Homo sapiens: one gene and its partners. The protein of the gene in region 2 interacts with the protein of the main gene of each other region in a biochemical or structural test. Each region holds a gene or a part of one and is shown on either strand. Other genes may lie near its edges.

Region 1 (8,354 bases), on a different chromosome or scaffold from region 2:
ATACCTAATCACTAATGGAAAAGGGTCTCTGTAAATAACAAAGAAAATAAAACCCTAATCCCTTGGTGGGGAGACAACTGAAGGATGTTAAGAGCATTTATTCAACCAAGATCTATTTAAAACTCTAATTGGAAATTTAAGGTGTCAAGAAAAATGGAAGAGTGTGAATTTTGTTTTGTTTTACCTTCTTTTAAGTCATCATCATTAAGTTTGGAACCAAATTTTTATCGAGCCAAAATTTTTATTTTATTATGTGTTATATTTTTTATATTTTATTATGTTTCTACTGGAAATATATAATAAACAGAGTTACTAAATTTGCCTATTGGCCCATGCCACAGCCTTCAAATGCAAAGGCAAAACAGGCTGATAAAAGGACTGTCAGAATCACAGTGGACTCTTAAAATGGTTAGCTCTACGTATGCTGGGAGAACCCACACTTCAGACTGGACACATGCAGACTACACAACCAAAATTTGAAGTCAAGGCCACGGCCAAGGTCATGGGCTCTGGGTAAGACGAACCCGGGCTCAGGTTCTTGCTTTCATACTAAACTGTGGCAAGATACTGAATTCCTTCTAGTTACTCATCTATAATTTGGGCGTAAGAATAGTACCTACCTCACAGGGGCTCCACAAGGTTTAAAAAAGATAATGCATATAAAGTACTCAACAAAGTGCTTGCCTATGCAATAACAATGATGATGATAGTAATAGTAATAATACTGCTTTGACAAACCCGGCTTCTACATGAAAACCATTCTAATCAGTATATTCTGGCTCACAGTCTGTTTATGAAAGGCTTAATTCACAGAATTATGTTCACATCCAGGTACAACTTCTATAAAGTGACAGCTCTTTGGATCAATCAGTAATTTTTCTAATGAATTCAGGGAGAAGGGTGTTGAAAAATCAGGCTTTCACTAGTAGTGAGTTGAGATGGATCTGGTCCTTCACCCATGATTCATCCACCCGTGAAAGTCTTGCTGGTGAAAACCATGACACCATCACCTTCCACACCCCTCCCTGCCAAAACTGTAAAAGTATTTTATTAAAGCACAGAAGCAAACAGACAAGATGGCTTACATGAGAAAAAGGCAAACTCTACTACTCCCCGGAAAGAAAATGGCTTGACCCCACCACCACCGAACTGACATTCTGCAAAAGAGAACAAGGCAGCCCTCACTTCCAGAAGTTGAGTTAACTGTCAGAACTAAAAGAATCCCTTCTATTCATGTGACTCCCCATAAAGAACGTTTGCCGGCTCCAAAAATACCTTATAAATCCATCCAGTAGAGCCAAGCCCCAAGTACTGTATACTGAGAAACAATGTGACTTTACAAGGACAAGAGTGACCATAGGAGACAAAGTGCCACACCCTTTTCCCGGATAGCTCAACGGTACATGTTGTCTCTTATAAAGACTGCAATTCTGGAGAAATAGGTGGGCAATTCTAACACCCCCTCCCCCAATTCCTTCTTTACACAGATTCATTTTCATTTTTAAGCCAGTGGCCTCGGCATCCGCAACTACTACAACTAATAATCAGGGGGGTGGTGGGTAAGGGATGGGGAGGACAAGGAAACACAGGTCAAATATACTTGCTTCTAAAAGTCCATTTTCAAAGAGTTTTCTTCCCGCTTGTCTGCCTCTCACAGCTGTATCCCCATACCAGGTGGAAACCAATGGTTAAGTAAAATCACTGATTTAAAGAGCCAACCAGGAAACTAACCATGACAAGTGGGAGCTGCCCTCCTCTCCCGAGCATTGATTGGTTCTTTGGGTTCCACCGGTCCCCATTCTACCCACGTAAGTGGCAGGTGTGGCTGTCAATCACAGAGGGAACCGACAATTCACCGCTCGGGGAGTAAATTGCCTTTCATACAGCAAAGGCAGGTAGCCGCCTAAAATCGATCCACTCCTAAAAGAGCGGACCCTCCCTCTCTGGCAAGGAGAACAGAGACCCTTAAGTACAAAATAAATAAGGCAGGGCCGAACGGAGAGTTTACGAGCGCTATTTTATTACCCCGAACCAAAGCAGCTCTTAATCTTCACTGTCCTAAGACGATCTTTCAAAGGCTCGTACGGTATTTTTTTTAATTAGGTACACCTTCGTAAGTATCCCTTTTTTTGTATAATTAGGAGATGGGGAGGAGGAGAGAAGGGATGCCGTTCAGTTCAATTTCACATCGTATTCCTTTTCATACACCATCCCCTAGCCCTCCCCGATAAATCGGCTTCATTTTCCCTGACACGGGTTTTTTAAAAAAAAATATGCTCCCCTCTGAACCCACCCAGGCGGCCAGCCACCCCACCCCCGGGCGGGGGCTCCACCTTTCTCCACTTTGTTCTGCTTAGGATTGCTCAAGACCCCCGACCCCGCGAACACCCCACCCCTCGAGGCAAGAGGGGACGCCAGGCAGAAGAGGGGGATCTGAGAGAAGAAAGGCGATGGCAGTGAGGGTGGCTGCCGGAGAGGGACTGCGGGAGGTGGCCCGGGCAGCCGGGGCTAGCGAGCGGCGCCCGCGCGCTGGAGGAAACCGTGCACTTGTTCCAATCCGGGGGTTTATACATCAGGGCAAAGCCTCCCTTAGGCCGCCCCATCCCTCCCCCCGCCCAAGAAAGCCCCGTAGGAGGCGGATGGTTCACCCTTAGGCTCCCCACGATAACGCATTGCAGCTCCCCACGAGCGAGGGGGACCCGGCACGAGGAATGCCCGGGCACGGGCGCCCCGAGGGAGCCGGGCACCAGGCGGCCCCGGCCCCGGCGTCGGCGTCTCACCTTTCCGATGCTCGCCCCGGGGCCGTCCCACATGGATTTTTACAACCTCTCGTCGCCTTGGCCCCGGGCGGCCAGGAGGAGCAGGAGCCGGCGCCGGAGCCGGAGACCGAGCGAGCAGGAGCGGGAGGCGGAGGAAGAGGAGGAGAAGCGGGGCGGGGAACAGGGAGGGAGGAAAGAAGGGAAGGAGGAGGACACTGCTCGGAGGGCCAGGGCCAGGCGCGGGGCCGGGCGGGGCCGGCGGCCGAGGGGGCGGCACCCGCCGCAGTCCCGAGACGCGCGCTCGCGCGGCGCTGCCAGGCGCTGCGCTCGGCGGGGCCCCCACCCGGCCGGCCGGCACGCTCGCCCGCTCGCAGAGGCCCTGACTCACATTCCCAGCATTCCCGAGGAGCCGCTAGGGGGGACGGGGCTGGGGCCCGGGCGCCTCCGCTGGGGGCAGCAGAAAGCGCCCGGCATGGGCGGGGGTCTTCGCAGCGCCTCCTCCCGGCAGGCCGCGGCGCGAAGCACCTGTCCCCAATCTTCCATCCCCGACGCCCCTTCCCGGGTACCCCCCTCCAAAAGCTGCCAGGCACACTGGGAACTTGTCAGGTGGCTTTGGTGACAGGGGCAGGGATGGCACTTATCTTTTAAGTTAAGCATTGGAGTAAGGGGTCGTGGTTACCATACCCTGGCACCGTCCATCAGCTTTAATGTTCCTTAGGAGGTTGAAAGAATTTCATAAGATCTTCACTTTATTGTTCCCCCAAAGAAAGGACAGAATGAAAGATAAAGACAGGAACAAGAGAAAAGATCGCATCCGTCATATTCACTGGGTGCCTCTTCTGTGCCCTGAAATGTGCTTGCATTGTCCCAATTTAAGGTAGAAAGATGATGTCTGAGTTGATACGCGCGCACACAGGCAGATACACACACACACCTCAAGGTAATGAGCAAGAGGATTTGGACAAGTTTTTCATTGGAAAAAGCTTCCACTCAACAAGTCTGGAGCCCCAGCTGCTGCCATTTTATATTAGGGAGGGTACTGGGATAGCCATGGGCATCTTTAAACTTGGTCTCTTTCACTGAGTAGTCAATTTGCAGGGATAGAGCAGTCATTTCCTTCCTGTCCTGATGAGTCTGCTTCCAGCAATTTCAGTGGCCAGATCTAAATTTCTCCTGCTGGGAAGCTCAGACAAATAAAGCAAATCCAGCCATGGGATGTTTGGGTGCGCAGAGGCATAGAATTAGTACAGCGATTAGAGGATGGATCCTTCTTTCCTCCCCGATAGGAATTCAATTTTTTTTTTTTTTTTTTTGGAGACAGAGTCTTGCTCTTTCTCCCAGGCTGGAGTGCAGTGGTGCCATCTCAGCTCACTGCAACCTCTGCCTCCTGGGTTCAAGCAATTCCCTGCTTCAGCCACCTGAGCAGCTGGGATTACAGGAGTCCATCACCACGCCCAGCTAATTTTTGTATTTTTAGTACAGACGGGATTTCACCATCTTGGCCAGGCTGGTCTTGAACTCCTGACCTCAAATGATCCGCTGACCTCAAGCTTCTCAAAGTGCTGGCGTTACAGGCGTGAGCCACCGCGCCCCGCCGGAATTCAAATATTAAATGATTCCTGCTCAGGGAATCAGACTCTGAGAGACAAGGATGCCTTCCTGTTCCAGCCCAAATGCCTGTTCCTTAAGCCTGTACACCTCTGGTAGCTAAGGTTTTTCATAGACTCTCTTTGCCCTCATCCTCTTCTTTCTCTCTCTGAGAAATCAACACTCATTCTCCTGACCTAGATGCTCCAGGGGCAAAACCAAGCTCCACCTATTGTGTTTTGTTCCCCACATACATCCTTGACAGCCTCTGCTCAAAAGGCTTGTTGTATATGAGAGCCTTGTTGAGAGTCCTTTGAGAATTCCTAAAATCCCACATCTTTTGAAACGTGGCCAACATTTTTTAGTACCCCCCTCTGTGCAGGCACTTACATTTTCTCAACTATTCTCACAAATATTCTATAAGATGTTTACCAACTTTCAGAAAAGTTGGGTAACATACCAGGGTGATCCCATGAAGAATTTATTTAAATCAATGCCTGAGGTTCACTCTGGTTGGCCACCCATTCTCTTTTCCTTTGATCCGTGGGTTTTAAAAGGAACCCTTGACATTCAGGGGATCAATTTATTATGTACATGCTTATGTACATTTTTCCCACAGAGAGAAGATTCATGGTTCTCAACAGATTTCTTTCAAATTGGGTCCTTGACCCAGAAAAGTTAAGAATAATTACTTTAAATAGAAAGTGACTCTACATAGTAAAACGAAGAGTGGAAGTTATAGGAATCTTAAGCAAGTCATCTTTATCCTCTCTGGGACTTAGTTTTCTGAAAATAAAAAGCGGAACTAAAGAATCTTAAGATTGCTCTCAACTCTAACATTTTCTAACTTTAGGTTAAAATACACATATATGTGTGTATAGGTACACAAATACATACACAAACACACACACACACAAACAAACACACCCTCGCAATATGCTAACAAGTAGCCATTGTGAGATCTAACCCTTCAGGACAGAAAATTCTAAAACATATTATATTTTCTAAAACATGGTCTGTTGCTCCAGGGTTTTTTGTTGTCGTGGTGGTTTGGTTTGGTTTGTATTGTTTTGACAGTTATTGATGTCTTTCTTCATCTTCACAAGCTCTTTTCAAGCAAGTCAGAGAGAGCATACTTTCATGGCAGATATTTTTTTCTCACATATTCATTCATTCATTCAACAAATACTTATTGAGCATCTACTTTCTCCTAGGTCCTGTGGGTTCAGAGCCCCTGCCTCAAGGACTGTACAGTTTAGTGATGGAGACAGACAAGAAGCAGGCAATAACAATACTGCCTATGAAGGGACAAAGTTCTGGGAACTGCAGGAACATGCAGGAAGGATAACCAACTGTTCCCCTGGGGTTCAGAAAAAGTTTTCCTGAGGAAATGTCAAATTTGCTGCCACATCCAACTTTGCTGCCCTATGGTGTGCTCAGCCTGGAGTGGCAGCTATCATAGATGGGAGCTGTGGTGGACACCTGCCCCTGGATGAGCCATGACAGGCTCTCCTTCCAGTATTTCAAACTGAGCTTGAAGAATGAGTCAGTCAGCTGGCATTGAATGGTGAGATTGTAGACTGTGGTGGCCCAAATTAGAACAATGGCACCAAAAACCATGATGCCAAAGTCATCAGGAAGTAAGTTCTAAGATCCTTGCCAAGGAAGTTGGTCTGTAAAGAGGAGAACAGCCAGCCATGTAGACAGAAATGAGATTTCTAAAGACCTAAAGGCCTTGGATATCTACCTGCTTATTTGACTTCCCCAGTGTGAGTATTTAACCCACCAGTATCTCAAACTTGATTTTTATGCACCAAGTCTCCTCTCTCCCAAGGTCACCCATCAGGATAATGACATCACCAATCATCCTGTTGCTCAGGTCCAAACCTAGGAGTATCATTAATTCTTCCTTTTGCTTATACCACACGTTTACACCATCAGCCAGTTCTATCAGCTTTACTTGGGGCTGAGCCAAGCCATATCAAACCCTGAAGCAAAAGAAAAACTCTGTACCCGTACATATTTTTTGAACCAAATAGAAAAAGTTAAGCTCTACAGTGAAAAAGCATGACTATATATAAAAGCACCGTAATGCCCAATCAGTTTTCCTATGATTGTCAACCCTCACAAGCCTGCCAGTGTGGGAATATGAGAGCCAAGTGGCCTTGGAACTGAGCACAGGTTGGAAACAACTGTTCTTCTTGCACAATGATGCAGGGTCATAAAACAACAACCTGTGTTGGTTTTGTTTTTGTTTCTTTGGGTTTTTTGCATTCATTTTGAATATAGTAACAGCAACAAAGAACAAATACCAATTAGACAAAATCAGTACTATGTGCGAGGCCCTGTTCTAAGCTCTTTGTGTGCATTAACTGACTTATTCCTCGCAATTGACCTAAAATATACCATTATTACACCTATTTTACCAACAAAGGCACTGAGGCACCTCTAGGTAAGGTAATTTACCAGGGCCACACAGCTAAGTCATCGCAGGGCTGAAATTCTAACCCAAGAAGTCTGACTCCAGAACAAACGAGGTAAAATAAACTGGACTTGGTGAGCAATTGGCTATGTGCAAGAGAGAGGAGTCAAAAATGTTCCCAGGAGTCTGGTTTGGGCAGCTAGGTGGATAGTGTGCCATTCACTAAAACTGGAAATAAAGGTTGGGGAGGAGTACAGGTTTATGGAAAGTTTATAGATCATATGGGAAACCCAATTATGAACAGTTTATGGGTTCAATTTAAGGCTTTTCGTATTTGAGATGCCAAGGACCTCATGGTAGAGATGTCCAGAACATGGCAGTTTCAATGTGCTTTGAAGTCAGACAGCAGATACTTGATGAAGACAGTATATGAGAGTCACCAAGTTTGGTGATTAGAGTCCTGGGCATAGCCGAGTAACCCAGAACAGTCATTAGCATGTCCACAGGAAGAATCTAGTTGAATAAGAAACAAAATCCCTAAACAACTTATAATTGTCTGTTCTTCTTAGGCATGAGGTCATTTGCGCAAGTCTTAACAGGGTAGATTTTAGCTCAAAAGAAACATGATTGAGCTGCCACTTTAAAACAAAACAAAACACCTAATTAACTGACCCATCACCACAACAGTTGGACTGGAAAAAAGTCACCTGATCCTTTGGAAGCCAACAATTGGTGCCGTTAAACCATTCAAATTATATTTGCCAGAAATGTTTTAAGACCTTTGTAGGTTTTAAGCATCATAGCAAAGATATCAAAATCCAGCACCATCAAAAGTATATATTTTTTTGGCTGTGCATGGTAGCTCACATCTGTAATCCAGCACTTTGGGAGGCCAAGGCAGGAGGATCACTTGAGCCCAGGAGGTCAAGGCTGCAGTAAGCTGTGATCACACCACTGCACTCCAGCACAGGTGACAGAATAAGACTCTGTCAAAAATATATATATATTTATACACACACACACATGCACACACACACATTTGTTTTTCTGTGAAAATGCTTGAAAGTTTTTTAAATTATTTGAGCAAGAACCATTCATTTTACTTACTTGTGGCTGTGGTTGTCCAAAATCATTAAGCATACTCAGAGACTATTATAAGGTGAGAAGAAAATCTAACATACAGTTGTTTGCAAATGAAAGGAAATGTTTATAAATATGAAAACCCATAAAGTTATATTTTGTAGACATTTATTAAACATTTAATTCTCAATTTATAATTTTCTGTAAATCTGTCATCTCAAGGCAGGCAAGTCTTTCAGGGCTTTGCAAAAATGTTGATTAAATGTTCATATAATGTAAAATAACATCAATTTCTTTAGTTCCTTGGCTTCCAATAACCTCATTTCCTGACTTTAATCACTCATGAAGTCTGACCCCCCCCTTGCTATCCTTGGGTTCCATGACAGGCCTCTATGTTTTTTCAGTAGATACCTTCTTTTTTGTTTGTTTGTTTTTGCCTCCTTAAGTATCTTTAGTGAGTTTCTCTTCCTTGCAACCACAAGTACTGTCGGAATTGAAAGTCAGCT
Region 2 (7,828 bases):
ATGTTCTATATTCTGTTGTTGGGTAGAGTGTTCTATATTCTGTTGTTTGGTGGATTGTTCTATATTCTGTTGTTGAGTGGCGTGTTCTATGTTCTCTTGTTGGGTGGCGTGTTCTGTATTCTCTTGTTGGGTGGCGTGTTCTATCTTCTGTTGTTGGGTGGCGTGTTCTACATTCCATTGTTGGGTGGAGTGTTCTATATTCTGTTGTTGGGTGGTGTGTTCTATGAAACGTCAGGTCAAGTTTGTTAAGGGTTGTTAGTTTAGGTTTTCTATATTCTTAATTTTTTTCTTTTTTTGCTTCTTTCATCAGTTGCTATGAGAAAGAAGTGTTGAATTTTTTCAACTATAATTGTGAATTTGCCTGTTTCCCCATTTAGTCCTGTTGGTTGTTGCTTTATCTCTTCTCTAAAACTATATTTTAACTGACTTTTACTGATTTTGAAATGGATTTTTTCTTTAGGAAAACAAAGTGTTAAAATGTAAACCAACCAGAGATAATTTTAGTGAGCAGTGTTGAATTGAGCCTTCAAACTTGTTCATGAGTCGTGATCAATCTTTGTCACATTATTATACTAAAAACTATCTCAGAGAGGAAATTTATAGCCAGTTACAGTTTTTTTGTAGTTTGATTTAAAAGTTAAATTTATCACAACGAATCATATATTTTTCATGTTACTATTCCTGTTGTATAAAAATTTTACTAACAAATTTAAAAGGTGAGAAGAGATCAAATTATTTTGCAATTATAAAATTATCATTAGTTTAGCCTTTGAGAATATAGGTAATAGATTAAAAATTCATTTTAAAAATGATATAAACTACTTTTGAGACTTCCTCTGTAACTGACCTTTTCCATTTATGAAAAGCAGACACTCGCCTATGGGGACATGAACCACGAGTGGATCGGCAACGAGTGGCTCCCCAGCCTGGGCCTCCCCCAGTACCGCAGCTACTTCATGGAGTGCCTTGTAGACGCCAGGATGCTGGACCACTTGACCAAGAAAGACCTTCGAGGGCAGCTGAAAATGGTCGACAGTTTTCACAGGTAACTTAATGGAGATAGTTCTTAATAATTGGCTAAGATTTTTCACTGTTACCATCTCTAAATCATCTCTCTTTTCTTCCAAATAGAAACAGTTTCCAGTGTGGAATTATGTGCCTGAGAAGGTTAAATTATGACCGGAAAGAACTGGAAAGAAAAAGAGAAGAAAGTCAGAGTGAAATAAAAGGTTAGTACATGACATTTAATTGATTCGGTTTACTCCTACTTGCTGGTGTGTTTGGAGCCTCAGTGACTTCCTATTTTTCAAAAAATCAAGAAAGGCTAAATTTAAGTGGAGAAAACTAACTAGTCTAGTGTCATTGCAGAGGAGGGCTGGATGAAGTTGAGTGCTTTTGAGATTCTCTTCCACAGCTAGAGAACTGTTCCCTGTGTTCTCACACATCAGTCTGGAGGTTAAATGTCTCCGGCTAGTCGTTTCCTGTGAGTTGAGAGTTTTCCTTTGGTCATGCCCTGTGTACTCCTTCACTCCGAAATGCTGTTCCACACTGTTAGATAACAACAGAGCAAAGCTCACTTGATGATTCAAGTGTGAGAAATATGACTGGGGGCTTATCCAAGGGGTTCAGGAGAACAGGAGAGCACCGTGCAGTTCTGCTCCCGGAGGGGAAGGAGAGGCAGCGTCTGCATTTCAGCTGGTCCTTGAAGAAGGAGGAGGAGCTGCTTAGGGTAAGGAAAAGGCATTTCAGTTGGAAAACACAGGCCAGGGAGGCGTTAGAGGATGTGAGACATTCATCCAGAAGACGTGGAGTTGGTTCTCTTCTCCGTTGGGGAGTCCCTCACTCGTACTCAAATTTATTTGTTTGTTTGTTTATTTATTTATTTAATTTATTTTGAGACAGGGTCTTGCTCTGTAGCCCAGGCTAGGCTGGAGTGCAGTGGTGTGATCACAGCTCACTACAGCCTTGAACTCCTGGGCTCAAGTGCTCTTCCTGCCTTAGCCTCCCTAGTAGCTCCTGGGAGTACAGGTGTGCTCCACCATGCCTGGAATTTTTTTTTTTTTTGTAGAGACAGGGTCTCGCTATGTTGCCTAGGCTGATCTCGAACTTTTGGGCTCAGGGGATCCTCCCACCTTGGCCTTCCAAAGTGTTGGGATTACAGGTGTGAGCCACCACACCCAGTCAGAATTTGCTTTTAAAATTAGACAGTAAACATTAAGCTCAGAGTAATGACTCCCAGAATTCCTGGAATGCAAGGAAGTCACCAATAACAATAATGATAAGAAGAGGCCAGTCTTACTAACAGTGAGTAGGTGCCAGGTGGTGTTCTAAGTACTCAGGGGTTGCTTTCTTTCATCTTTACCTTAGCCCTGTCAGTCTAAGTGCTGTTTTCATCCCCACTTTATACTAAGAAAGAAACTAAGGATAAAAATATGGTTGGGAGATGGCCCAGTTGAAGGGAAGTCTACTTGTGATTGAGTTAATGTGAATCAGGAGAAAAGTCGTAAGTCGACATTTATACAGTGTGTGTATATGTATGGACTTTTATCCAGAAAAGGGCATTGGCAATGAAATATGTCCATCTGTTTTGTTTTCTGTATCTATTTTACATCTTTTTCCAATAGACAAAGATCTTTGGAAGTGTCTTTGGAAGTGATTGGTGATCATCTGCATATATTTTTAGAGTGGCTATTTTTAGATCTAATAGAGCAAATTGAATAATTTGTTAATTTGCATAAGATATTGTGGCTGGGCATGGTAGCTCATGCCTGTAATCTCAGCACTTTGGGAGGCCAAGGCAGGAGTATTGTCTGAGCCCATGAGTTCAAGACCAGCCTGGGGAACATAGTGAGACCCTGTCAGTACAAAAAAATTAGCTGAGCTTCGTGACACACGCCTGTAGTTCCAGCTCCTCAGGAGGCTGAGGTGGGAAAAATCACTTGAGCCCAGGAGGTTGAGGCTGCAGTGAGCTATGATGGTACCAGGCTGTATCCAGCCTGGGTGACAGAGCAGGACATTGTCAAGAAAAAGAGAGGAAAAAAAAAGATTTTCTGCAAAGTCTCTAATGTGCTGGATGATATTGTTAAGTTTCTCTCATTTTAAAATGAGACAAAGACTTCGAGATTAGAAATGAGAGGTTTCTGTTGAATTGAGCAAAGTGTTCATATTATTATGGAGCCAGCTCCATCCGTGATGAAGTATTTCAGAAGACTCTCCAGTCTGTGTGTGAAGCATGTTTATACATGTTAGGTATTCAAGTTCTTGCAGTCCTCTGGCTTCTGATCCCTGGATCCTCATCATCTTCTTTTCTCTAGAAATAATAACTTCATTCCTCTCGTGCTCACTGGAAGGATGAGTTCTAATGGGAGAGTCTCCCTGAGAGTGGAGCAGGGCCAGGACACCATTGTCTCAGTGCAGCAAATGGTTGTCTATTTAGCAGTGTCTCCCAGCACTTTTCTCAGGAGCCGAAGGATTAGGAACCATGGTAGGAATCTTTCTCCTGCATTACAGGGTACATGTGATAAAGATGGCTTTCTGAAGCCACTTTTATAATTGTCTTTATTCTTTTGCAGACGTGCTTGTTTGGAGCAATGATCGAGTGATTCGCTGGATCCTGTCAATTGGCCTTAAAGAATATGCAAACAATCTTATAGAGAGTGGTGTTCACGGAGCACTTCTGGCCTTAGATGAAACCTTCGACTTCAGTGCACTGGCACTGCTGTTACAGATCCCGACGCAGAACACACAGGTGACGCCAAACCTGTCTGTGTCTGCACTCATTGTTCAGTTGGCACCCTGATTATAGACAGCTAGTTATTCGAATAGAAAGAAACTTTAAAAAAAAAAAAAAAAAAAAACTTCAGACAACTAGTTTTTGGTTTTTTTTTTTTTTTTTGGTCTATTGGCTTTCCCTTTTCTGTTGGAAGCATGAGAGTCCTGCAATAAACCAGATAAGGACGATCTTTCATTCCAGCCCATGTGCCTGATCAGAAGAGTGACATATATTTAGTTCTTACATGGAAAGAGAAGTGTTTTTAGGTGTGCCACATGAAGATTTTATTAATTTTGTTTTTATGGGTAATTGCCTTATGCCATTCTTTTTGACTCATGGGCTCATTTGAAAAACAGGGAACTTTTATTCCTCTACAGAACATTGAATATGCCAGGCAAGGTGGCTCATGCCCACAATCCCAACACTTTGGGAGGCCCAGGTAGGCAGATTGCTTGAGTCCAGGAGTTCGAGACCAGCCTGGCCATCATGGTGAAGCTCTGTCTCTACAAAAAAATACAAAAAAATTAGCCAGGTGTGGTGGCACATGCCTGTAGTCCCAGCTACTTGGGAGGCCAAGGCAGGGAGATTGCTTGGCCCGGGAAGTGGAGGTTGTGATGAGCTCTGATTGCGCCACTGCACTCCAGCCTGAGTGACAGAGTGAGACCCCCATCCCAAAGAAAAAGGAAAAAAAAAAAAAAAAATTGAATATCTTTGGCCAATACCCCTGACCAACCCACACAACACACCCTTGTTAATATGACTCCAAGGATCATGGATCCCTTTCTGCAAAAGCCCATCCATTGACTCCACATTAGATGCCCTGATTTAAAATATTATTATGGTTCAATGTAGTCATAGCAGTGAGGGAGTTGTTTTTTTGTTTGTTTTGAGATGGAGTTTCGCTCTTGTTGCCCAGGCTGGAGTGCAATGGTGCAATCTTGGCTCACTGCACCCTCTGTCTCCCAGGTTCAAGTGATTTTCCTGCCTCATCCTCCCAAGTAGCTGAGATTACCGGCACACGCCACCGTGCCCGGCTTATTTTTGTATTTTTAGTATAGATGGGATTTCACCATGTTGGCCAAGCTGGTCTCAAACTCCTGATCTCAAGTGATCTGCCTGTCTCGGCCTCCCAAAGTACTGGGATTACAGGCATGAGCCACCACACCCAGGCCCTAATTTTTGTATTTTTAGTAGAGACGGGGTTTTACCATGTTGCCCAGGCTGGTCTTGAACTCCTGACCTCAGGTGGTCTGTCCGCCTTGGCGTCCGAAAGTGTTGGAATTACAGGCGTGAGCCACCAGACCCAGCCAGCAGTGAGGGAGTTTAAGTCTTGGTTTAAAAAACAATTACGATGCTAACACCCTTCAAATTAGATTTGATGAAAGTTTTATTTGTTTTTCTTTGGTTATTTCAGGCTCGTGCTGTCTTGGAAAGAGAATTTAACAACCTTTTGGTCATGGGGACTGATAGAAGGTTTGATGAAGTAAGTTTTTGGCCTAATGTTCTTTAAATGTCTGAAATGTGTGTAAATGTTTAAATGTGTGTGAAATGTAAGCTGTTATTATTATTATACTTGGGACATCATGTAGCTAGGCAGTCTCTCTGGATGTTAGAAGTCAGGCTTTGCTCTTATACATTTATTCACAAATGAGCCTTTAAAAACTAATACCTGGGCCGGGCACGGCGGCTCGCACCTGTAATCCCAGCACTTTCGGAGGCTGAGGCGGGCGGATCACCAGAGGTCAGGAGTTTAAGACCAGCCCGGCCAACATGGTGAAACCCCATCTCTACTAAAAAACACAAAAATTAGCCGGGCGTTGTGGTAGGTGCCTATAATCGCAGCTACTTGGGAGGCTGAGGCTGGAGAATCGCTTAAACCTGGGAGGTGGAGGTTGCAGTGAGCTGAGATCGCACCACTGCCCTCCAGCCTGGGCGACAGAGAGAAACTCCATCTCAAAAAGAAACCCCCTCCCCGCAAAAAAAAAACCCACAAAAGTAATACCTTCAAGAAGGTAGTTTTGTTTTTATTTTTGCTATTTAATTTTTGACATCCCTCAAAAATGGTTTTCACATCATAAAACATTGGTTGCAGCTTAGGAACAGAGTCTGTAAGTTGGGTTTTGGGGACCAGTAGTTATCCTACCCCAGTCCAGAGTGTACCCCCATACTCCTGTGCATGGGTGGGGTGGCATGTTTCAGAAGTATATTAAAAACACAAAATGTTAATTTCCCCTTAAAACCATGACTCATTTGTTCCACACGATTAGGAGTCTCTTAATTGGACCTTAAGAAAAGTTGAGTTTGACAGAGAGAATAGAAGACCACCTCTAAAGATGAAGCACTTGTTGCTATATCCTGGCATAAGATAAAATTGTTTCTAGTTAAAAATTGTTTGTAGAGCTGCGTGTGGTAGGGGCACACCTGTAGTTCCAGCTACTTAGGAGGCTGCGGTGGGAGGATGGCTTGAGCCCAGGAGTTTGAGGTTACAGTGAGCTATAATCACACCACTGCATTCCAGCTCGGGCAACAGATCTAGACTCTGTCTGTAAAAACATAAATAAAAATGAAAAATAAACTATTTTTAAGATAAATAAAAACGTATTACGTTGCAAGAAAGTGATTCCTGCAAGGTGTAAGAAGTAGAACATGATGCTGTGGAGAAGGAGCACATCCTCATGGCCCAGCACCGACCTCATTTCGCCAGCTGAGGCCCAGCCGGACCATCACCATGCCCCGTTTCACGCTGAAGTTCCAGGTTGGGCAATATATTGTGTGGTCATCAAGAAGGGATTAAATACATGTGGACAAGAATACATTCTCGAGATCAGCAGTCATTTTAAAGGACATGTAACTTTACATCTCTGACCTTTATTTTTTAAATGAATCTTGTTTTTTGTTCCTTAATTTACCAGGATGATGATAAAAGCTTTAGGAGAGCACCTTCATGGAGAAAAAAGTTTAGACCAAAGGACATTCGTGGCTTAGCTGCTGGGTCAGCAGAGACTCTCCCTGCAAACTTCCGGGTGACTTCTTCTATGTCTTCCCCCTCTATGCAGCCAAAGAAGATGCAGATGGACGGTATGTGATGGGTCACACTAACCTGTCACTTGTTGGGAGCATGAGCAGCTTTCTGTCTGGAACATTAATAATGATCTAAAACGGCCTATTTAATATGTTACAAGGCACTTGAGTATGGTTGCATGTCCAAATATAAATGTTTTTAAATTAACTCTAACATTTGTTTATAAAAGTTTAACCATAATAATAGAATTTTTAAAACACGCTTGTCTGGTTGAATCTTAGCATATTTTTCCAACTAATAAAGCTCAGTATTCGTCTGTGTTCTCAGAGAGAGACTGAGGCATACTTGTAAATTTGTGTCTGTGACAGGCCGTGCTAGAAAGCTCTTTCAGGAAATAGTAGTGTAGTAGTAGCTTCCAAACCACATAATTTACTGCTCTCCACACCAGAGAAAATAACTGAGTACATTTTTAAGAACACACAGTTTCCAGCTTGTGTGAGCTCTGCCTATGCTTTCTGCCCTCCCTGCTGCTGCTGTTCCGTGCAGTCACATGTCTACCCATTAGAGGGCAGGGAAGGGAGGAAGGTGAACCTCCAAGAAGTCCCCAGTGGAGCGAGGCAGCTATTGACTATACCAGCCAGAGAGAGAGCATCACTGCCATGATTTCACATGCAGTTTGGGATTTTCCCTTAGACGGCCACTTTGATTTGAGGTTAACAGTTGACCATGGCTTCCTTACAGGTCTCTCAACTCTGCCCTTGTACTCATCTAATGAAAGGCAGTGCACAGGTTGAAGAGCCAGGCTGCCTAGGTTTGACTCCAGCTCTGCCACTAGGAGGTGCATGACCCTGAACAAGTCATTTAACTACCCTGGCCTCGGTCTCCCCATCTGTAAAATGGTCGTCATGGTAGTGTCTTCCTCATAGAGTAGTTGCGATGATTGAATGCCTCATTCATTAAGCTGGTGAAGTTCTGAGCCCGTGTCAGTCGGGGCTGTTTGGCAGCCCCTGTGCTACACACAGGTCACTCATGCT
Region 3 (7,414 bases), on a different chromosome or scaffold from region 2:
GCTATGCTTTCAGCTGGAGCACCAATGGTGGATAGGTAGGTAGGGGCACCCTGCCACCACCTTCTAGTCCCCATTGCTCGAGGCGGGCCTGATTTTCGGCTCTTTGGGCCTCCTCCCCACCCCGCCCACAGCAGCCTCCACCCCGCTGGCACCTTGAACTCGAGTTCCATGCCAGTGACGTGTTCGCCAGGCTCCACCTGGGCCAGCTTCTGGATGTAGGCATAGAGGCTGCGTGCGGGCACTTCTGTGTTGCCACAGCCCACGGCCTCCAGCAGGGCCTCGTGGATGAAGCTGTACTGGTCCTCCGTCTGCACCATGTAGTTGCGCTGGGACCTCATGAGCGTCACGTGGCCATAGACATCGACTGTCTTCTCTGGCTTGATCCGCTCAAGCATGGCGTCGATGACGATAAAGCAGCCTGTGCGGCCCACACCGGCACTGCAGGGACAGCCACGTGGCGTTCAGGGGCTGCTGGGCTGCGGGGACCGGGGGGAAGCGGATGGGGCAGAGTGGGGTGGACGTACCTGCAGTGAACCACGATGGGGCCGGCATCTGGCGGGTTGCAGGTCTTGACTCTCCGCAGGAAAGCCAGGAAGGGCGTTGGGTATTCGGGCACGCCATGGTCCGGCCACGCCGTAAACTGGAACTGGCGGACCTCGCGTTTCTCACTGGAGCCATTCTGGGGACCACAAGGATGTCACCTGTCACTCCGGCTCAACCTGCCACCCATGTGCTGAAGATGCCCAAGTGGCCGGGTGTGGTGGCTCATGCCTGTTATCCCAGCACTTTGGGAGGCCGAGGTGGGCGGATCACCTGAGGTCAGGAGTTCGAGACCAGCCTGACCAACATGGAGAAACCTCGTCTCAACTAAAAATACAAAATTAGCTAGGCATGGTGGTGCATGCCTGTAATCTCAGCTACTTGGGAGGCTGAGGCAGGAGAATTGCTTGAACCTGGGAGGTGGAGATTGCAGTGAGCTGAGATGGCGCCACTGTACTCCAGCCTGGGTGACAGAGTGAAACTCCATCTCAAAAAAAAAAACACCCATGTCTGCGCCTCCCAGTCACCATGTCCCCAAGTGCCTGACTTGGGCTCTAGCTGGCCCTGGACGGTTTCCAAGTAGAGTCTTGCGGACGCCTCACACACAACGTGGCCAACTGTATCTGGCCTTCTCCCCAAACCTGCTCCCCCGTCTTAGCTGAAGGTGGCTCCAACCTTCTGGGCACTCTGGCCACAGCTTGGGAGTCACCCTTAACTCTTCCCCTCTCACATCCAACACCTCACCCGGGACTGTCGGCTCTGCCTTCAAAGTCTATCCCAATCCACCTGCTCCATGTTCTCCATGCAGGCCAATCTGGTCTAGACCTATCACCACCCTCTTTGCCGCAGACCTTGGCTCCCACCCAAGCCCCCCAGTCTGTCCTCCCTGCAGCAGCCAGAGGGCACCTGAGTCAGATCTGGTACCTCCTCTGCCCACAGCCCTCCATGGCTCCTGCCTCCCACAGGGTCAAAGCCAAAGTCTTCCCCAAGGCCCACAGGATCCTGCATGACCAGGCACGGTCCTGCCCCAGGGCCTCTGCCCAGGCTGCACCCTCTTACCTGAAATGCTGTCCCCCCAAATCTCCCCATCATACCCTCTTCCAGGTCCCTAACACTGTTTTTCTCCTCCACTTTATTTTTCTCCTTTGACATGTAAGCTTTCTTGACATTTCATAGTTGTGGTCTGTGTCTTGTCTACTAGACTGTTAAATCCCCCAAGGGCAGAACGTTTTGTCTGTTTAGGTCCCTGTTGTGTGCTTGTGTCCAGGTTAGGGAGTGAGATATAACATATGCTTAATGTATAACATATGCTTAATGTGTGTGATTGAACCAAGAATTCTCACTCTTGTCCATGTACTCAGTTTTCTGGCACTTAGGTCAAGCAGGTGCCTGACGGTGAGATGACCTGGCTGGGTGTTGGGGATACATCACGGTGCCAGTAGCACCTCCCCTCCCCATCATGACAATAACAAATGTCTCCTGGATGGCAGAATTGTCCTAATTCAGAACCACAGATGGAGAAAAACAGATGGAACCGCACTATGGACAGCAGCCATCAGTTAAATACATATCTAAAAGATCTTCTCCATCCCAGTCCTGACTTTGCAGGGCTGCCAATATCTGTCCATCTCTGTCTGGAGACTCCTTGAAGGCAGGGCTGGGGCCCTGCTGAGGCCCCCATCATAGGCTCAAGCTGGGTGAGGCCAGAGGACAAGTGGGCAAAGAGGACCTGGGGCATGAGTAAAGGCAAGAAGAAATCAGGCTCATTGCTGAGTTGGGCTCTGCCGGCTTTGTTCTCCTGCCGTGGGTGGAAACAAGCAGTGTCCTCTCTGAGCCTCAGTTTCCCCCTCCACGGAAGTGGGTTCCATGAGAATGTAGTCAGCCTGGGTAGACACGCTCCGCTTTCTCTCTGTCCCATGGGGAGCTCCCTGGGTAGAAGCTGGGGCCCTCTGCCTCCCTTCCAACACATTCCTCCACCCTCAGCCCCCAGCCCCAGCCTGGGCCCCACCTTGTGCAGAGAGAATGTCCTGACGCAGAATGTGGCCAGCTCGATGGTATCTAGCAACGTGACCTGGATGAAGCCGTAGGTCTCCGTGCCTCTGTTGGGCCAATACTGATCACACTTGATCTGTATCGGGCAAGAGAACAGGTGTCAGCAGGGACAGGCTGACTGGCAGGGGCTTGAGGGCCGTGGGGTCCAAGGCTCACCCGTGACTTCTCCTCCAGCCGCGTCATCATGACGATGGTCGCCGACCGCTGCTCCCACACCATACGCCAGAAGTCCCCAAAGGTCTCAGGCAGCGGCCCCTGCGTGGCAATGTACGCGTTCTGACACCGGTAGCCGTCCACGTAGTTGGCATTGATGTAATCACTGCCCATGATGCCTGCAGCCAGGGCGAGAGGCCAGGGATCTGTGGGGGCTGTCTTGCTAGTTTGGCTCTGTGTGGCCAACCACTTCCTGGAAGTTCACTCTGACCGCTCCCAGATTGTCCCCAAGGTGACCATGGGACGTGTACTTCACAGTTTCTCCCCCTCAGCGCCATCACCATTTGGGGCCAGATCGCCCTCTGTGGCGGGGCCATTCTGGGCACTGCAGGGTGCTGAGCAGCATCCCTGGCCTCCGCCCACTCCACGCCAGCAACATTTCTTCCCTTCAAGTTGTGACAACCAAAGATGTCCCTGGACATTGCCAGATGTCCCCTGGGCAGCAAAACTGCTCTGATTGGTCACAACTGATGCAGAAGGACAGATGAAGCCATGTTAGAGAGAGCAGCCATCAGTTAAATACATATCTAAAGATGCCCAGTGGCCTCCAGTTGGAGCTGGACCAGGTCTATGACCAGAATCAGGCCTCAGTGGCCCAAGGGGAGACATGGGATCTAGCACTTTCCATGCAGTGGGGAAGGGCAGGTTAAGACCCGGGATCTCCGAACTACCTTCAATGGGCTGGAGGATGACACGGGAGTGGTCATAGGCGATGACGTTGGCATAGCGGTTCTTCGGCTTGTTCACTTCCAGGTTGGAATGTTCCCATGTGAACTGCTGTCCAGGGTCGATGGACTACAGAGGAAGGGGAGAGCGCGGGTGTCAGGGTAGGTGCCTGTGAGGCCGAGGTGATGAGGGTGGGAGGCGGGGGTGGGCTCACCTCATACTCCTGGGAGAGCTTGAGGCTGTCGTTGGCCTTGAGCCGCTCCGTGTGCTCCGCCATGTCTGCGATGGGAATTGGCGGGTGGCTAAGCATGCCTACAGGGTGGAGCAGACCCCGCCGGGGTTGGTCACTTGGGGGGCCAGCCGGGGACTCGGGGGAGGGGGGTGATCTACGTGTGAGTCTGCGATGGGTGAGCTGTGGTTAGAAGGGCATGGCCGGGGTGGGGCTTGGCAGGAGGGGAAGACTCAGGGTGGCTCATGAAGGGGCTGGGACCCCAGGCCTAGGGGACTCTAAAGGCAGCAGGTTTGAGGCCCTCTGCTCCGTGCAGAGGCTGACACCCCTGGAGGGGCCTGGATCACAGCATTGGCCCATCCTGTTTCCTTCCAACCAAGCTGGGGGTGCAGGGGCTGGCAGAAGGGTCACCCCAGAGGATGTCAAGCTCCCAGTGCCTCGAGCCAAGAAGCAAGTGTGTGGCACAGAAATTAAATTGCAGACGCAGCCGGCTGTGCTTTGGAAATACTGTCCTTGGGTGGGCGACTGACACCCCTTTCTGTCCCTCTGGGATCAGAGGCACGAAATCCGCTTCCAGGTAGAGGCGACAGACTAGGGAGGGGAAACAGTATGTGTGTGTGTACGTGAGAGGAGTGAGGGGTCCCCATCTGTCCCTGCGCTTGCTTGGGGCAGGAGCAGGTGCAAGAAGGCCCTGGCCTGAGAGCTCTTATCCTTTCAAGCCCCCTAGGATGGCTGCCGAAGGTGCTGGGTGTGGGCTCGGTTCTCCCTTCCCGATATCTGGGTCTGCAGAACCCTGACCTCTCCTGGGACCTGTGTACCGGATGTTCAGCTCTCAGGTGGTTTCCAGACCAGCTGGTAACATTTAATGTTCTGAGACTTCCATGTGTCCCTAGCTGTCCTGGGTGCCCCCCAAGAGCTCACATCTAAGGGGCCTGCCTGTCCTGTGGGCACGTCCTGGGTACATACGTGCCTCACCCACATCCCTGACACACACATACACACCACACACACAGCAGTCACACACAGCCACCTGAGGGCCCAATGGACCAACCCCCTGCCCTCTTCCAGGAGCCAGCACAAGACAGGTGGGCAAAGGCCGGTGATGGGTGGGCGTGTGGACAGAGACAGGAGACACGATGGAGAAACCAAAGAGGAAATGAACGGGGGCGGGGGCGAAAGGAAGCCAAAAACAGACACAAGAACTAACTTTCAAAGTGAAACCCCGGCTCCCTGAGGGGGCTCCTGAGGCCTGAATCTGCAAACAGCAAACAATAAATAAATGAAAACATGCAGGGGGTAGGGGGGGGTCCCACCTCTGCCTCCCCCACCCCTCACTGGCTGGCGGATGCAAAGGGCAGAGCAACGCGGACAACGGGGGGTATGTACAGCCACCTGGGCCCCCACCTGAGGACTCACGATAGCTGCTAACTGTGTACCCCTCTGGCTGGACACCAGTCAATCCTGGTCTTGACCCGTCACTCTGGAAGGACTCCAAAGTGCTAGGTTCTTCTGTCTACAGATCCCCTCCCCCAGACCAGCCTGGCCTTGGGTCCCCTCTGTTGAGGTCAGCAGAGGGCATTCTGAGGAAGGAGGATGCAGGATGGTGAAGGAGAAGCTGGGGGAGCAGGGAAAGGACATATGGGCCCATGCCATGAGCTTCAAGGAGGACAGCAACCATCAGTTAAATGCACATGTTGAAAATCCTTATTTGGATGGAAACACAACAGACATCAGCTAGTCCAGAGACAGAAATGAGATGGGAGCACATTAGCGGTGAATTGTGAGACTCTGCATGATCCCTTCAGGAGACTGCAGCCGTCAGTTACATGCACATTTAAAATTCTCATTTGGCTGAAAAACCAAAGCAACACGAATCAGTACAGAGGAAAGAAAGGGAAGAGAATACACGAGGGGTGATACATGAGGCCCTGCATGATCCCTTTATGAGGACAGCAGCCATCAGTTAAATACTAATGGTCAAACTCCTCATTTGGATGAAAACAGAAGTGACACAAGCCAGTCCAGAGACAAAAAAAAAGAAAGTACATCAGGAATGGCATGTGAGGCTATGCATGAGGCTTTAAGGAGGACTAAAGACATCAGTGAAATACAAATGTTTAAAATCTTCATTTGGTTGGAAAATAGAGTTGATATGAACCAGTTCAGAGATACGAAGTGGAGACCGGGTACAGTTGGAAGGACAGATGTAACTTGGCTGTGAACCCATAAGGAGAATAGCAGCCATCAGTAAAATGAAAAATTCCTTATTTGGTTAGAAGCAGCTGGCATGAGCCCATGAAGAGGGAGGAGATGGTAGAGTTTGTGAATCATACATGAAAATGATCAAGGATAAGGCCTTGATTCAGTTCTCCTGGACTGTCAGGTGACTTTAATCTACAGGGAACTATAAAGAGGCATGAACCCTGGCAGCCATGGTGGGAAGAGGTACAGGGCATTGGGCAGGTATAATTTCTGTACCTTGCTAGGGATATATCCCAAGGGAGTGTGGAAAATGGCTGAGGGCAAACCTCAACTCCCACCACCGAGGAACATTAAAACCAGAGACATAAACAGAAGAATAGCTCTTTCTGCCCAAAGAAATGAGGGGTTTATTTGTGTTTTCTCCATTTTTTAAACATCGTCTTTAGGCTCCTGAAGAGGACAGCAGCCATTGGTTAAATGTTAACTTTAAAAAAAAAAAAGCCTCACTTGGTTGTAAGCAGAACCAACCTATGAGTTCCAAGCCCAGATCCATGTAGGGTTGGAGGTATTTGGGAATCCAGAATGTGGCTGCACCAAGCATAGTTCAGAGGGGGCCAATGAGGGGCCCCCAGGGTGGCAGCTACTGCTTCTCCCCAGCTATCTCCCCTGTTGGTGGCATCCCTGGTACCAGGGATAAGTACATACCTGGAGTCTGGAAGTTAATGCGTCTCATTTCCACAGGGTCCTTGGGGTGGTGAGGGGCGAGGTCGGCATTGTTCAGGAGGCATTTGGTGCGGGGTTCTGAGTCCTTGCGTTTACTTTAGGAGAAGCAAGCGGAACAGTCCAGTTAGTAGTGGCACATGTTCATGTGTGAACACAATTCAGGCCCCAGGAATGCATGGTAAGAAAAGGACCATGGACCCGTATGACTAGGGTTTCCAGGACCAAGTACAGCTACGTGTACAAGCTGTGGGGGCAGCCGGGCATCCCCTCTCCTGTGGGCACACTATCAGCCCATTCCCTGTCCTCTTCCTCTTGCCTGAAGCCTCCACGGGGGAGGGCTGGTTCTTACCTGTCGGGTTTGCTGTTCCCGAAAGCAGACACAGGTGAGAAGGGGGAAAAAAAGAAGAAAGGTGAGGGTGTGCCGGCCATCAAGGGCTTGTTCTGTGACTCTCAGTGCCTTCCTTAACCTCTGTGAGCTTTGGTCTCCTCTGGAAAATGGTGCTCATATTTCCTGTTTGTCCCCCTGCCTATCGACACCACAAGGAGGCTTATCTCAGCCCTGGGATGTGCCCCATGGGGCCACTACAATTGCTATCCTCATTGAACTGGACACAGGCAGCCTCTACCCCAAATCTTGCTGAGTTGAAGATAGGGGTTAAGAGGAGAAGCCAAGCCACTGGCCTGCTTTGAGCCCTAGCTCTGCCATTCCCATGCTGTGTGACCTTGATCAAGTGGCTTAACCTCTCTGAACTTCGGTTTCCCCATGTGTACAACAGAGACCTTTAGTGA

The links. Proteins that work in one complex are often made in the same cells at the same time.
Region 1: the proteins of PPFIA1 (region 2) and ERC2 form a complex in vitro, tested with the Homo sapiens proteins (one study listed by BioGRID).
Region 3: the proteins of PPFIA1 (region 2) and PTPRS form a complex in vitro, tested with the Homo sapiens proteins (one study listed by BioGRID).

What each region holds. Positions count from the first base shown.
Region 1 is NC_000003.12:56,465,468-56,473,821, forward strand, and holds the start of ERC2 (ERC protein 2), read right to left. Parts: upstream 3,001-8,354; 5' UTR 2,781-3,000; intron 1-2,780. UniProt on the Homo sapiens protein: Thought to be involved in the organization of the cytomatrix at the nerve terminals active zone (CAZ) which regulates neurotransmitter release. Seems to act together with BSN. May recruit liprin-alpha proteins to the CAZ.
Region 2 is NC_000011.10:70,371,346-70,379,173, forward strand, and holds part of PPFIA1 (liprin-alpha-1), read left to right. Parts: intron 1-847; exon of another isoform or gene 848-866; coding exon of another isoform or gene 867-869; coding exon 870-1,045; exon of another isoform or gene 1,046-1,131; coding exon 1,132-1,229; intron 1,230-3,572; coding exon 3,573-3,748; intron 3,749-5,186; coding exon 5,187-5,255; intron 5,256-6,684; coding exon 6,685-6,850; coding exon of another isoform or gene 6,851-6,858; exon of another isoform or gene 6,859-7,126; intron 7,127-7,828. UniProt on the Homo sapiens protein: May regulate the disassembly of focal adhesions. May localize receptor-like tyrosine phosphatases type 2A at specific sites on the plasma membrane, possibly regulating their interaction with the extracellular environment and their association with substrates.
Region 3 is NC_000019.10:5,211,813-5,219,226, forward strand, and holds part of PTPRS (receptor-type tyrosine-protein phosphatase S isoform 1 precursor), read right to left. Parts: intron 6,987-7,414; coding exon 6,975-6,986; intron 6,721-6,974; coding exon 6,608-6,720; intron 4,956-6,607; coding exon 4,908-4,955; intron 3,784-4,907; coding exon 3,686-3,783; intron 3,601-3,685; coding exon 3,477-3,600; intron 2,925-3,476; coding exon 2,749-2,924; intron 2,669-2,748; coding exon 2,549-2,668; intron 680-2,548; coding exon 525-679; intron 439-524; coding exon 153-438; intron 1-152. UniProt on the Homo sapiens protein: Cell surface receptor that binds to glycosaminoglycans, including chondroitin sulfate proteoglycans and heparan sulfate proteoglycan.